Linked DNA regions of Homo sapiens: all the other regions are reported to be linked to region 1. The links are microRNA targets in miRTarBase. Many come from high-throughput screens and were not tested one by one. Region 1 holds a microRNA gene; each other region holds the end of a gene's coding sequence. Distances are from middle to middle.
What was found. The annotated mature microRNA hsa-miR-21-5p reads UAGCUUAUCAGACUGAUGUUGA and lies in region 1 at 900-921, opposite strand. An mRNA with a match to its seed (bases 2 to 7 or 8) in the 3' UTR can be bound and repressed. Matches are read on the target gene's strand: a 7mer-m8 pairs with bases 2 to 8, a 7mer-A1 pairs with bases 2 to 7 and ends in A, and an 8mer does both.

Region 2: the mRNA of PCGF2 is a reported target of hsa-miR-21-5p. The part of its 3' UTR that is shown has no 7-base or 8-base seed match.
Region 3: miRTarBase lists TUBGCP5 as a target of hsa-miR-21-5p. The part of its 3' UTR that is shown has no 7-base or 8-base seed match.
Region 4: miRTarBase lists ATXN10 as a target of hsa-miR-21-5p. Seed matches in the 3' UTR shown: 8mer at 689-696.

Annotation. Positions count from the first base shown.
Region 1 is chr17:59,839,090-59,842,193 of GRCh38, reverse strand. MIR21 (microRNA 21) reads right to left here and starts at 928; the gene lies at 857-928. It overlaps VMP1 (vacuole membrane protein 1), which reads right to left. Exons shown (of 12, transcript NM_030938.5): 12 at 1-2,426. The coding sequence ends at 2,283. RefSeq lists enhancers at 1,153-1,882, 2,606-3,104.
Region 2 is chr17:38,732,437-38,735,530 of GRCh38, forward strand. PCGF2 (polycomb group ring finger 2) reads right to left here. Exons shown (of 11, transcript NM_007144.3): 11 at 1,462-3,094. The coding sequence ends at 2,787. It overlaps CISD3 (CDGSH iron sulfur domain 3), which reads left to right. Exons shown (of 4, transcript NM_001136498.2): 4 at 840-3,094. The coding sequence ends at 1,019. Among named protein-coding and RNA genes, the nearest start is that of CISD3, 3.6 kb to the left of the region's middle. RefSeq lists an enhancer at 2,487-3,014.
Region 3 is chr15:22,996,949-23,000,052 of GRCh38, forward strand. TUBGCP5 (tubulin gamma complex component 5) reads right to left here. Exons shown (of 23, transcript NM_052903.6): 23 at 2,229-2,918. The coding sequence ends at 2,872. Among named protein-coding and RNA genes, the nearest start is that of CYFIP1, 18 kb to the left of the region's middle.
Region 4 is chr22:45,843,130-45,846,233 of GRCh38, forward strand. It overlaps ATXN10 (ataxin 10), which reads left to right. Exons shown (of 12, transcript NM_013236.4): 11 at 1-49; 12 at 540-2,178. The coding sequence ends at 542. Among named protein-coding and RNA genes, the nearest start is that of MIR4762, 84 kb to the left of the region's middle. RefSeq lists an enhancer at 1,906-3,104.

The DNA of each region.
Region 1 (3,104 bases):
ACTTGCAAATTCTTTGGTCTCCCATCAGCTGGAATTAAGTAGGTACTGTGTATCTTTGAGATCATGTATTTGTCTCCACTTTGGTGGATACAAGAAAGGAAGGCACGAACAGCTGAAAAAGAAGGGTATCACACCGCTCCAGCTGGAATCCAGCAGGAACCTCTGAGCATGCCACAGCTGAACACTTAAAAGAGGAAAGAAGGACAGCTGCTCTTCATTTATTTTGAAAGCAAATTCATTTGAAAGTGCATAAATGGTCATCATAAGTCAAACGTATCAATTAGACCTTCAACCTAGGAAACAAAATTTTTTTTTTCTATTTAATAATACACCACACTGAAATTATTTGCCAATGAATCCCAAAGATTTGGTACAAATAGTACAATTCGTATTTGCTTTCCTCTTTCCTTTCTTCAGACAAACACCAAATAAAATGCAGGTGAAAGAGATGAACCACGACTAGAGGCTGACTTAGAAATTTATGCTGACTCGATCTAAAAAAAATTATGTTGGTTAATGTTAATCTATCTAAAATAGAGCATTTTGGGAATGCTTTTCAAAGAAGGTCAAGTAACAGTCATACAGCTAGAAAAGTCCCTGAAAAAAAGAATTGTTAAGAAGTATAATAACCTTTTCAAAACCCACAATGCAGCTTAGTTTTCCTTTATTTATTTGTGGTCATGAAGACTATCCCCATTTCTCCATAAAATCCTCCCTCCATACTGCTGCATTATGGCACAAAAGACTCTAAGTGCCACCAGACAGAAGGACCAGAGTTTCTGATTATAAACAATGATGCTGGGTAATGTTTAAATGAGAACATTGGATATGGATGGTCAGATGAAAGATACCAAAATGTCAGACAGCCCATCGACTGGTGTTGCCATGAGATTCAACAGTCAACATCAGTCTGATAAGCTACCCGACAAGGTGGTACAGCCATGGAGATGTCACGATGGTAGGCAAAACAAGCAGACAGTCAGGCAGGATTTGATAAAAAAACAAAAACAAAAACAAACCAAAAAAACCCAGGCATTTCTGGCCTGTTAAGATCGAACCCCAATTCTATTCTATTCTGACATAATGCTCATAATGCTCCTAAAGGAAAAAAGTAAAATTGTTTATTTTCCTCCCAAGCAAAACAAAATGAACAAGTTCAATCAAAAACATCCCAATGGAAAAAAATCACACTAAGAATAAAACACTTACAGAACGGCAAGAAAACTGGGTTAACATATAAATTTGTGTCTGTTGAAACCAGAGTACATGCTAGAAAACATTAACACAGATACGACAGAGTGTGGTTTTTTTTTAGAAATGGGTAATTTCTCTCTCCAGTATCCTTTCACTTGTATGAGATATTTCTCCTCTCCTGTTTTCACAAACCAAGAAATCCCCAGGTAGGCCAATCCCAGAGGTGCCATTTAGCAGTATGCAGCAGCCCAGTTTCAGCATAACAAAACATGCCTTGGTAGTGGCTCTCTCATGCAAATAAAAGAAAGCTTAAGAAATTCTTGTTGTAGGTGGATTAGGCAAGGCTGCCATTCAGCTGGTATAAGCTAAAAGTAAAAAATCAAAACGCTCAAGAAAACGGACACAATTTTGGAATGATTAAAGATGTCTTTATAAAGTTTTTTTCAAGACTTCATTCTAAATACACAGAATAAAAAATGGTGTCAGCTCACTTGTAAGACACCAACCAGATTTTCCTTATACTGTCTCAAAATTTAAAGATCAATTTCCCCAGAGGGTGTGCAATGCATCATAAAATGGCCCTTTTTTGAGGATGGGAGAGGAAGGGTTGGGCAGGATGGAATATTAAATTGTAACATGATAAACATGCAAGACTGTTATCCAATCTAGATAATTTATATACATTTTGATGACTTAGGAAAACAAAGCAATCATTTGTGACAAGCCTAAAAAGCTTGACATATTTAACATACTTAGGAACTTTTTTTGTGCGGTGGGAATTCTCTAATTGTATCATGTGGGCCTTTTGAAAGTAACAAACAGAAGGCCAGTCTGTTGCAAGTTTGCTGCTGAACATCACATTCCACCCTAAGAAAACACAAGGTGGATTGCATCGAGGGTGGATACCTTACCTTAGCACAGAAGGAAAAAGTATGTCAGTGCAAAGTATGGACTAAACTGCTTTCAGGAAAAAAGTTGTAAAAATTGATACAGGTTGGAAAAGGGAATTTTCCTTCCCGGCTTGGAGTCCTCCCAATTTAAGGCAGAACCCATCCACTCCAATTTCTGCAGTTTAAAACTTTCTCTACTTATTTAGTTTTCTCCTCTGAGTTCAACCGCTGCTGGATTCGTTTGGCATAACTTTGTGCCATGGAGTTAATGATAGATAGGATGAAGTAACACACCATGACAACGACCAACTTTTCAAACATCCAGGACAACCAGTTTTCTCCCTGTAGAAATAAATGCAGAACAATGCAATGAAAAAGGCTTCATTAGTTCAGTAGTAAAAAGAGGATCATCTATAATGCTTGAAGTGTGTAACTTACAAAACCTAAAGAATTAAAAATGAAAAGTAAGCAACCCCAACTACTCTGAAATCTCCATTACTCTCCTTTTTACACCCAACTATCAAGATTTCACTTTGTTGGATGTAAAATCAGTGTTGAATCACATAGTTTAGAATGGGATGAGTGTGAGGTTAGCTCTTCTACTAGGACCTAAGAATAAACTCTTTGATTAAACTCAACTCTGAAGTCGCCATGCAGATACTCATGAGTATTGTCAAGACAGTTAAATATTTTTGTTCCAGTATTAGGAGCTGTTTTTAAAACACACAAATGTATCTGTTTCTGATGTCATGTTTGGTCAACTGAGGGCAGCAAAGGTCCATAAGAAGAGTGCAAGGCCATTAAAAAAAACAGTGCTCTGGCCGGGCGCGGTGGCTCACATCTGTAATCCCAGCACTTTGGGAGGCCAAGGCGGGCGGATCATCTGAGGTCAGTTTGAGACCAGCCTGGCTAACACGGTGAAACCCTGTTTCTATTAAAATACAAAAAATTAGCTGGTGTGGTGGCACGTGCCTGGAATCACAGCTACTTGGGAGGCTGAGGCAGGAGAATCGCTTGAAC
Region 2 (3,094 bases), 21 Mb from region 1:
AGTCTGGGCAACAAAGTTGAGACCCCGCTTCTACAAATGCCTCTACCCCCACCAAAGACTAGCATGGAGGCAGGCCTGTGTTCCCAGCCATACTGGAGGCTGAGGAAGGAGGACCGCTTGACCCCAGGAGGTTGAGGCTACAGTGAGCCGTGTTTGCATCACTGCACTCCAGCCTGGGCAACAGAGTGAGACCCTGTCAAAAAAAAAGGCCTTGGCACCAGCTCTGCCTTCAGCTAGCAAGGCATGTCACCTTTCTGGGCCTGTTTCCATTACCCAGTCTCTGCTTGAGCGGCTTCTGGGATGGGGAGTACACTTCTGTGCCAGCCAGCCAGTTTGCTATGGGGCATCCCCTCCTCCTTGTAACCTTCACTCCCTGTCACGTGCCCAGTTATTCCCTGGAGCCAAACAAAATTGCTACCACAGTGTACTCTCCAGCCCAAAGAAGTTTTAACCCAGGAACATGGGAAGTAAATGAATTTCATGATCCAGTGGAGACTCAGAGACACACACACACACACACACACACACACACTCACACTCTATTAGTGTCCTGGCCCTCTGGGTGTCCCAGAGACTAATGCTATAAAGACTCTGTAAATACTTACCAGACACTTACTATAGGCAAAGTGCATCACGATCATATTTTATTTCCTCATACAACTCTACTCTTATCACCCCCACATTACAGATAAGAGAGGTCACTCAGTGAGCCTTGGCAGTCTTGCTCTGGAGCCTGTACCCTAACCACTGTGCTCCACTCCCCCTGAGCTCCTGCAGCCTGCCCTGCCCTGCCCCAGCAGGTGGGGTCAGGTCTTTGACTCCTGTCTTTCCCCCACCAGCCCTTCTGTGACGGCTCCCACTTCTTCCAACGCACTGGCCTATCTCCACTCAAGTTCAAGGCCCAAGAGACCCGCATGGTGGCACTCTGTACCTGCAAGGCCACTCAGAGGCCCCCGTACTGCGATGGCACCCACAGGAGTGAGCGCGTGCAGAAGGCAGAAGTGGGCTCCCCACTCTGAGGGGGCTGCTGCTGTCCAGCCACAGGTGGCCTTGGCTCCAGGCCTCTGACAGGCACCCCCTTCTGTGGGAAAGGAAACAGGTGCTGAGCCCAAGAGACTCTGGTACCCACTGCTGGCTCATGAAGGAAGAATTATTCCTTATAACCTAAAAGTCTCCAGTCTGGGGCAGGCGGGAGTGGGCCCTGGTTCAATGTTTGCTGATGGGGAAGATGGCAAAAACAAGCCTGCCCAACCAGACTGGTAGTCCTGCAGTCACTGCTATGAGGCCCACGTGCTGCCTCCTGCTCCAGATTTTAACCTCTCTGTGGGCTGGGGGCACCTGACCAGCCACAGGAGAGGGCAGTTCAGATTCATTCTGTATGGGGTCCCCAAGCCAGGCTAAACCCAGAGATGAGAGGCACCCTTCCCTTCTTCCCTCCACCCCAAAGAACTACAGGCTCCAGAAAGTATGCAGCATTTATTACAAAGCCAAGAGATACAGATGTCCCAGGGCAAAGGAGGGTACAGTCACAGGACCTCAGACACAGGACAAGGTGCAAACACAGACAAGCCCATCAGGGGGCTCCCAACCCCACACACCTACGCTATGATGGAATCTCGAGTCTCGACTCCCGACTCCTCTCAGATCTATGCACACTTGAGGAAATCTCGGTGGGCAGCGACCTGCCAGGGTCTGTCCCTAAGGAGGTGGTCCGCTGACCTCTCAAGGGGTGGGGGTGGGGTCAGAGCTTACAGGTTTCTGTCTTCTTGTGCTTTTAGATGCAGTTGCTCTGTCCTGACCAGGTGACCGGGCCTCAGCTGGGGGTGGAGGGGCAATTGGAAGGCTGTTTGCCTCTGGCAAAGTCTGGGATCTGTGCTTGTGTGAGGTTAACCCACCCCCACTTCCACTCTAGGCCCCAGGTGAGACTCCACCACCAGTCCTGCTAGTGAGGGTTCCCCGGTGAGGGTAAGGTTGGTGGGGGTGCAGCGCTTCACAATGCTAAAGCCTTAGCCCTCCTCCAAGAGCTGAGACCTCTCAGGGCCTGAATCTTCTTTTCCACAAGATAAATGATGCAAAGGCCACACACACAGGAAAAAAAAAAAAAGAGGCAGAACTATCTATTCTTTGCACAAAGTTTCCACTGCAAGAGGAGGAGGTGATGCAGGTGCCACCTCCACCCTGCACTTGCTCCTCAGAACCAGGGATAAACTGCATTTGTAAAAGGCACTGTTCTTAGCAATTTCTGGACATTCAACAACGTGGGGGGCGGCCACTGGTCAGAGGCAGGACAGCAGCCAAGATGGGGAGAGAAACGGGGAGAGAAAGAAACGATTCTAACTGACTCCTATATGCAGCCAGTTGGAATCATGCCTAAAGCTTTGGGTCTGAAGGGGCCCCCAACACACCACCTGCCTTGGGAAACAGCGAGGATGGTGCAGAGCTTTATTGAGACTCCAGTGGCCCATCCAGTTCATCTCCAGGCACCCCCAAAAACAGCAAATTACACAAGACCCCCCCCAAAAAAAATGAACACCATTTTCCACACATACACACACACATAAAGTTTGTTTCCTGTGGCATTTAAATTAATCTGGTTGGTCCATAGAAAATAAGTATGTATATTTGGTTTTTCCTATGTACATATATATATATATTTATTTATAAAACCCGCCCCCCACCCCCAAGGTGGGAAGAGCTGGGGAAAGTAGAAGAGGTGGAAAAAAGGGCCCAGAAAAAGTGGAAGGAGTGGAGAGGCTTGGCTGGAAGAAGGGAGAGGGTCCCTGGCCTCAAGTTAAGGGGGGCACGGGAGCGCCGTTGACAGTCATCTTGCGCCCCCTGCTGGTGGAGGATGGTGTCTGCAGGCAGTTCAAGCTACCCCCGTTGGCAGCTGTGGTGGCCCCACTGGCTGTCGAAGGGGGAGTGGGGGAGGTAGGGTGGGTGGCTGGAGGCCCATGGGAACTGGGAGAGCCATGGGATGGGGTGGCTGGGCTGGGCAGGGAGGAGGAGGTGGCTGGCAGGGTGGCAGGGCTGGGAGCCTTGTCGCTGACTGACTCACACTCGGACGCCCCGCTGGTGTTGGTGCCCTCGGAGGGGG
Region 3 (3,104 bases), not on the chromosome of region 1:
AAAGCAAGACCTTGCATCAATGAAAAAAAAAAAAGCTTGTCTTACTAATTTAAAATGCCTTCATACACTCTGAACATAGTTACTTCTGGACACCCTGGGCAACAGTGGTTGCCTCTGGGCATGACATGGTTCCTGAAAGGGGCTAAGGGGAAATGTTCTCTCCCAGTCTGTGGCCTGTATTACCATTTTCCTAGCAATGTTTTTTGGTGATGTCCAATTCACCAATAATTCCTTTTTTTTTTTCCTTTTGAGACGGAGTCTTGCTCTGTCACCCAGGCTGGAGTGCAGTGGTGTGATCTCGGCTCACTGCAACCTCTGCCTCCCAGGTTCAAGCGATTCTCCTGTCTCAGCCTCCTGAGTAGCTGGGACTACAGGTGTGCGCCACCACGCCCGGCTGATTTTTGTATTTTTAGTAGAGACGGGGTTTCCCCATATTGGTCAGGCTGGTCTGGAACTCTTGACCTCAGGTGATCCACCCACCTTGACCTCCCAAAGTGCTGGGACTGCAGGCATGAGCCACCGTGCTCGGCCCCTTTTTTGATTTTATGTAAGAAATCTTTGTCTACCCCAAGTTTGTAGTGTTAATTTCCCATGTTTGCTTCTAGAAGCTTTCTAGTCCTAACTTCCACATTTTGTTGTTTCCAGTTCTAGCTTTCATATTTTTTTTCTTTTTCTTATTTTTTTCTGAGACAGAGTCTCGCTCTGTCGCCCAGGCTGGAGTGCAGTGGCATGATCTCAGCTCACTGCAACCTCCGGCCACCCAGGTTCAAGCAATTCTCTGGCCTCAGCCTCCTGAGTAGCTAGGATTACAGGTGTGTGCCACCACGCCCAGCTAATTTTTGTATTTTTAGTAGAGACAAGGTTTCACCACATTGGTCAGGCTGGTCTCGAACTCCTGACCTCATGATCCACCCACCTTGGCTTCCCAAAGTGCTGGGATTGCAGGCATGAGTCACTATGTGTGGCCTTTTTTTTTTTTAAAGATAGTCTCACTCTATAAAAAGAAAATATGGAAAAATTTAATAGTAAGCATAATTCTATTCAAAATATAACTGGTTAGCTCACAAAAATTGCTCAGAAATATTGCCAGGCACAGTGGCTCACGCCTGTAATCCCAGCACTTTGGGAGGCTAAGGCGGGTGGATCACCTGAGGCCAGGAGTTCGACACCAGTCTGGCCAACAAGGTGAAACCCTGTCTCTACTAAAAATACAAAAATTAGCTGGGCGTGGTGGTGCACGCCTGAGATCCCAGCTACTCGGGAGGCTGAGGCAGGAGAATCACTTGAATCCAGGAGGCAGAGGTTGTAGTGAGCCGAGATCGTGCTACTGCACTGCAGCCTAGGTAACAGAGTGAGCCTCCACATTTCAAAAAACAAGGAAATACCAAACAATAGTATGTACCAACAGTTGGCCCTAAGTGAAGTTGGCCTTTTACATTTATCGCTATCAGTTGAAGCTATTTTCCATGTAGAACTTCTCAGGCACAACAAAACATATATACATTTCTTTCTTTCTTTTTTTTTGTTGGAGACAAGGTCTTGCTCTGTTGTCCAGGCTGGAGTGCAGTGATGCAATCATGGTTCACTGCAGCCTTGACCTCCCGGTCTCAATCGATCCTCCCACCTCAGCCTCCCAAGTAGCTGGGACCACAGGCATGTGCCACCATGCTTGGCTAATTTTTTTTTTTCGGAGTCTTGCTCTGTCACCCAGGATGGAGTGCAGTGGTACAATCTAGGCTCACCGCAACCTCTGCCTCCTGGGTTCAAGTGATTCTCCTGCCTCAGCCTCCCAAGTAGCTGGGATTACAGATGTGGGCCACCACACCTGGCTAATTTTTTTGTATTTTTAGTAGAGACGGGGTTTCACCACATTGGCCAGGCTGGTCTTGAACTCCTGACCTCAGATGATCCGCCCACCTCGGCCTCCCAAAGTGCTGGGATTACAGGGGTGAGCCACCGTGCCCAGCCCTTGGCTAATTTTTAAGTTGTTTTTGGAGAGATGGGGTCTCATATGTTGCCTAGGCAGGTCTTAAACTGCTGGCCTCAAGGAATCCTCTCACCTCAGTCTTTCAAAGTGCCAGGATTACAAGCTTGAGAAACTACACCCAGCCAAAATATAAACATTTCTAGGACAGCTACATCTAAGACAACTTTTAGGGAAGACAACATGTAAAACTCTATATAAAAAGCTTCTGTGACTGTAGGACAGCAGCAAAAGGATAATAAAATGATTTTAAGTCCTTTAATTTATTTTGAATATCAGTAATTACATTTTCAAAATATGATATAATTTAAAGGTATCAGTACCATAAATCTGTATCTTACAGTAGGAAATGTAAGAGTAAACAGCCTATATACACTTTGTACTACTGACACAATTTTATGTATACAACTCTATACAGTATCTACTAATCTCCAGAAAACCCACCTACAATCCATCTGTCTGGACTGTGGGCAAGTGGTTCTTTCTGAGTCAGGGTCTCACTCTGTCACCCAGGTTGCACTGCAGTAGTGCAATCATGGCTCACTGTAGCCTTGACCTCCTGGGCTCAAGTAATCCTCCCATCTTTGCCTCCTGAGTAGCTGGGACTACAGGTACACACCACCATGTCTGGATACATTTTGTATTTTTGGTAGACACCGGGTTTCACCATGTTGCCCAGGCTGGCCTCAAACTCCTGGGCTCAAGTGATCTGCCTGTCTTGGCCTCCCATCGTGCTGGGATTAGAGGCATGAGCGACTGTGCCAGGCTGACTGTGGACAAGTTTTACAAATAAACCAAAATAAAAATATTTTCACTTTTCAGCTGCACATGGTGGAAATGTACATGTATGATGACAAAGTCGGAGATATTTATTACGCTGAAGACATTTAACTTTGTTCCATGCCAGCCATGAGTGACAACGCTAGAGATTCCACTGTGGGAAGAATAAAAATAAGGTTAAAACAATAGGTTTAAATGTTGAAAAAAAATTTTTTTTGAAGACGGAGTCCCACTGTCACCCAGGCTGGAGTGCAATGGTACAATCTCAGCTCACTGCAACCTCTGCCTCCCGGGTTCAAGCAATTTTCCTGCCTCAGCCTGCTGTGTAGCTGGGATTTCA
Region 4 (3,104 bases), not on the chromosome of region 1:
GAAAGGCGAAAAGCTGATCCTGAAATCTACTAGAGACACCCCTAAGCCAGTAAGTACCCTCGAGGGAACTGTCCTTCCCTTTGGTTTGTAGAAAGCTGTTTCCACTTCCCCATTGCTTCAAGCACGAGGCTCTTTGTAAGAATATGGATGGGAGAATTGTGCCCTCTATAGTGGTTTACCGAGGAAAGCCCTAAAGATAGCTGCAAACGGTTTTTTTGTTCCGGCTTTATGCTGCCATTTTCTTAAAAGAGGGACAATTTCAAACTCATTCTGGGTGAGAAATACAAAAGGCATATCAAAAGTTATACATGGTCTAAAAGTAAGTTACTCATAGGAATTAGATTTTCTTTAAAAGATAGTTAATGTTCACTATAGTTTAAAAAACAGAACTCCTTGAATAATATTGCATGAATTGTTTTAGGTTTCTCTAAGTTATTTGTCACCACTGACCAAAGTTCTGGGTTTTTTCCCCTTTTGTCTGATGAATCTTGTGAACAGATTTGCTACATCTGCAATTTTGTTTCTTTCTTCTTCTTTAGTGAATGAACTACATCCAAATACCTGAATTTTTGGAATCTGTTTCATGGATTTTTCATCTTCTACCGTATGTGAAATTGCAAGTGTTTGAAGATTTATAAGTACAAATTTGGGAACATACAAATCTTTTAGGTAGTAGAGTTTAACGTGTATAAGCTAAAAGTGAAAGTAACTGAGTGTTCTCTTGTTTCTTTGCATTAATGTAACTGTGTGGTTTGCCTTTGTCCCCCTGGATAGAACGTGCATTTAAAGAATATATTGTACTTACTGTGACAGCAGATAATAAACCAGTCTCTTGGAGGGCACAACCCTTATTTGACAAAACTTGGATGTTGGCTTGACTGTGTTTGTCCCTTCAGATGGCAAGTCAGCATCATTCTTTATATTCCTCTTCTCATTGGGTTTTCTGAACTCTGGCAGGCGGTTGAAGTAGTTTCTCACTGTGATTAATTCTAGCAATCTCTTTTCACCCCTCTGCCTTTCCAAAACATTGACAAGACTCATTTCCAGTTAATTAATTCGAGAACCCTCCCTCTTCATTTTGGGTACTGGGCTGTCTTGTCACTGAGCCCTATCCCTTTGGAATGTGGCAGGGAGTGAGGTTGGTGAGAGAACATGTGGGCACTTAACTCTTCATGTTCCAGTTCATCCCAGAAGTAGACATCCCAGGACCCATTCTGTGTCAAGGTGAATGCCTGTGTCCTCCCCAGCTTCATGCCTCTGTCATGGGGGAAGGAATAGCTTATGTTCTGCTCTGGTGCAGTGCCGTAGATTAAAGGTACATTTCTATCTTCTTTGATTTAAAAAGCACCAGTCTCATAAAGGTGCCACTCAGTTTTAGCCATGTCTTCACTGAAATTGCAAAAGTACTTTTAGGGAGCAGGAGTTTATTTGACATCTAGTTATCTGTCTGTCTGTTCATCTATCTATCTGTCTGCTGTATGAGAGGTAGGACTGGATTAAATGACCACTGAACTCACTGAATCCAGATCATTCATATCATCAACAAAAGCTCTAGGGGGAGGTCACGTTGTGAATGCTTAAAACATATTATTTTCTTCAACAACCATATCGCTAAACTAATATATCCAGAGATTTTGCACAATTCGTGTTGAACCTTCCAAAACAAAAATAAAGACCTGTCCAAAAGTTTTGACAAAAATACTGATTGCTCCCAAATAAAGTGCTTCTAAGCTTTGTGTAGACATAGTTTAACTGATTTGTAAAAATAGCTTAAGCATGTTGAGAATGAAGTAAAAGTTTTCCCATGTGCTGTCTAATGTACTCTGTGTAACTCTGAAGACACATCAGCTTCTAGGATTGCAGCAATCTATGAATAACATTTTTTCTCTCATTTATGACTTTCCATCAGTAAAGAAGCCATTGCAGAATTTAAAATTACACAAAGGAGTCATTCTCTCCTGGGACATAAAGAGTTAAAGCTCTGTCCTCTAAATAGAAGCCTGGCCAAAGGGAGAAAACAGTGGGAGTCCCTTTTCCCTTTTAACAAGTTTGCAATAGACACTTCTTTTTTTCCTGTCTCAATGGATGTGTGCACACCAGTGGAATCGCACAAACTTGTCGGTATGAGCTATATAATAACAAACACAAATAAATAAAAGGGAGCCTTGTGAGAATACAGAATGGGGTAATGGTTATGTGTTTTCTAAGTAGGAAGTGTGGGGCTTGCATAGTGAAAACATGCTGATGACTGCATTGTGGCTGCCTTTGATTCCCTCGGATGGATTAATTCTTGAGCACAACAGCTTCCCTGTCCTCTACCGTGGAGGACTCGGAGCTCCTGAGAACCTTGTTTTACATGCTATAGAGGATTAATCATCACCTCAATCAGTCATTTAGAAGGAAGAAAAAAGCAGGCCAGCCTTACAAAATTTGTAAAGAGACAGAATGGTCACAGCAAGTTTTGTGACCATATTATTGCTTTCAAGAGCGAGCTGACAAAGCTTTTAGCTGGCTTCACTTTAAAAGATAGAGGGGAAGGCTTCTCAGCTTGATACTGAGTCCAAGTATTTGCAGAGTGATTATTTTTTAATACCTTAACAATGGATGTGAAGATTTCAAAAATACTTATTTTTGCAATCTTAAAACAGTCGGCTCTCTGTATCCACAGATTGAACCAACTGGGGATTGAAAATACTCAGGAAAAATAAAATAGTAGTACAACAACAAAAAATAATACAAATTTTAAAATACAAGGTAACAACTATTTCCATAGCATTTACATTTTATTAGGTGTTACAAGTAATCTGGAGATGATTTAAAGTATGTGGGAGAATGCGGGTAGTTTATATGCAAATACTGTGAAGGCTCATATCAGAGACTTGAGCATCCATAGATTTTGGCATCCAAGCGGGGGTTCCTGAAACCAATACTCCACAGATTTCAAGGGCCAACTTACTAAACTGTTAGGATTTGTTAATATTTGTTCATTGTCCTCCTGCCCCAGCCGTGTAAGACATGCCTGCTTCCTCTTCTGCCATGATCCTAAGTTTCCTGAGGCCTCCCGAGCCATCCTTCCTGTATAGCCTGCAGAGCCATGAGCCAAT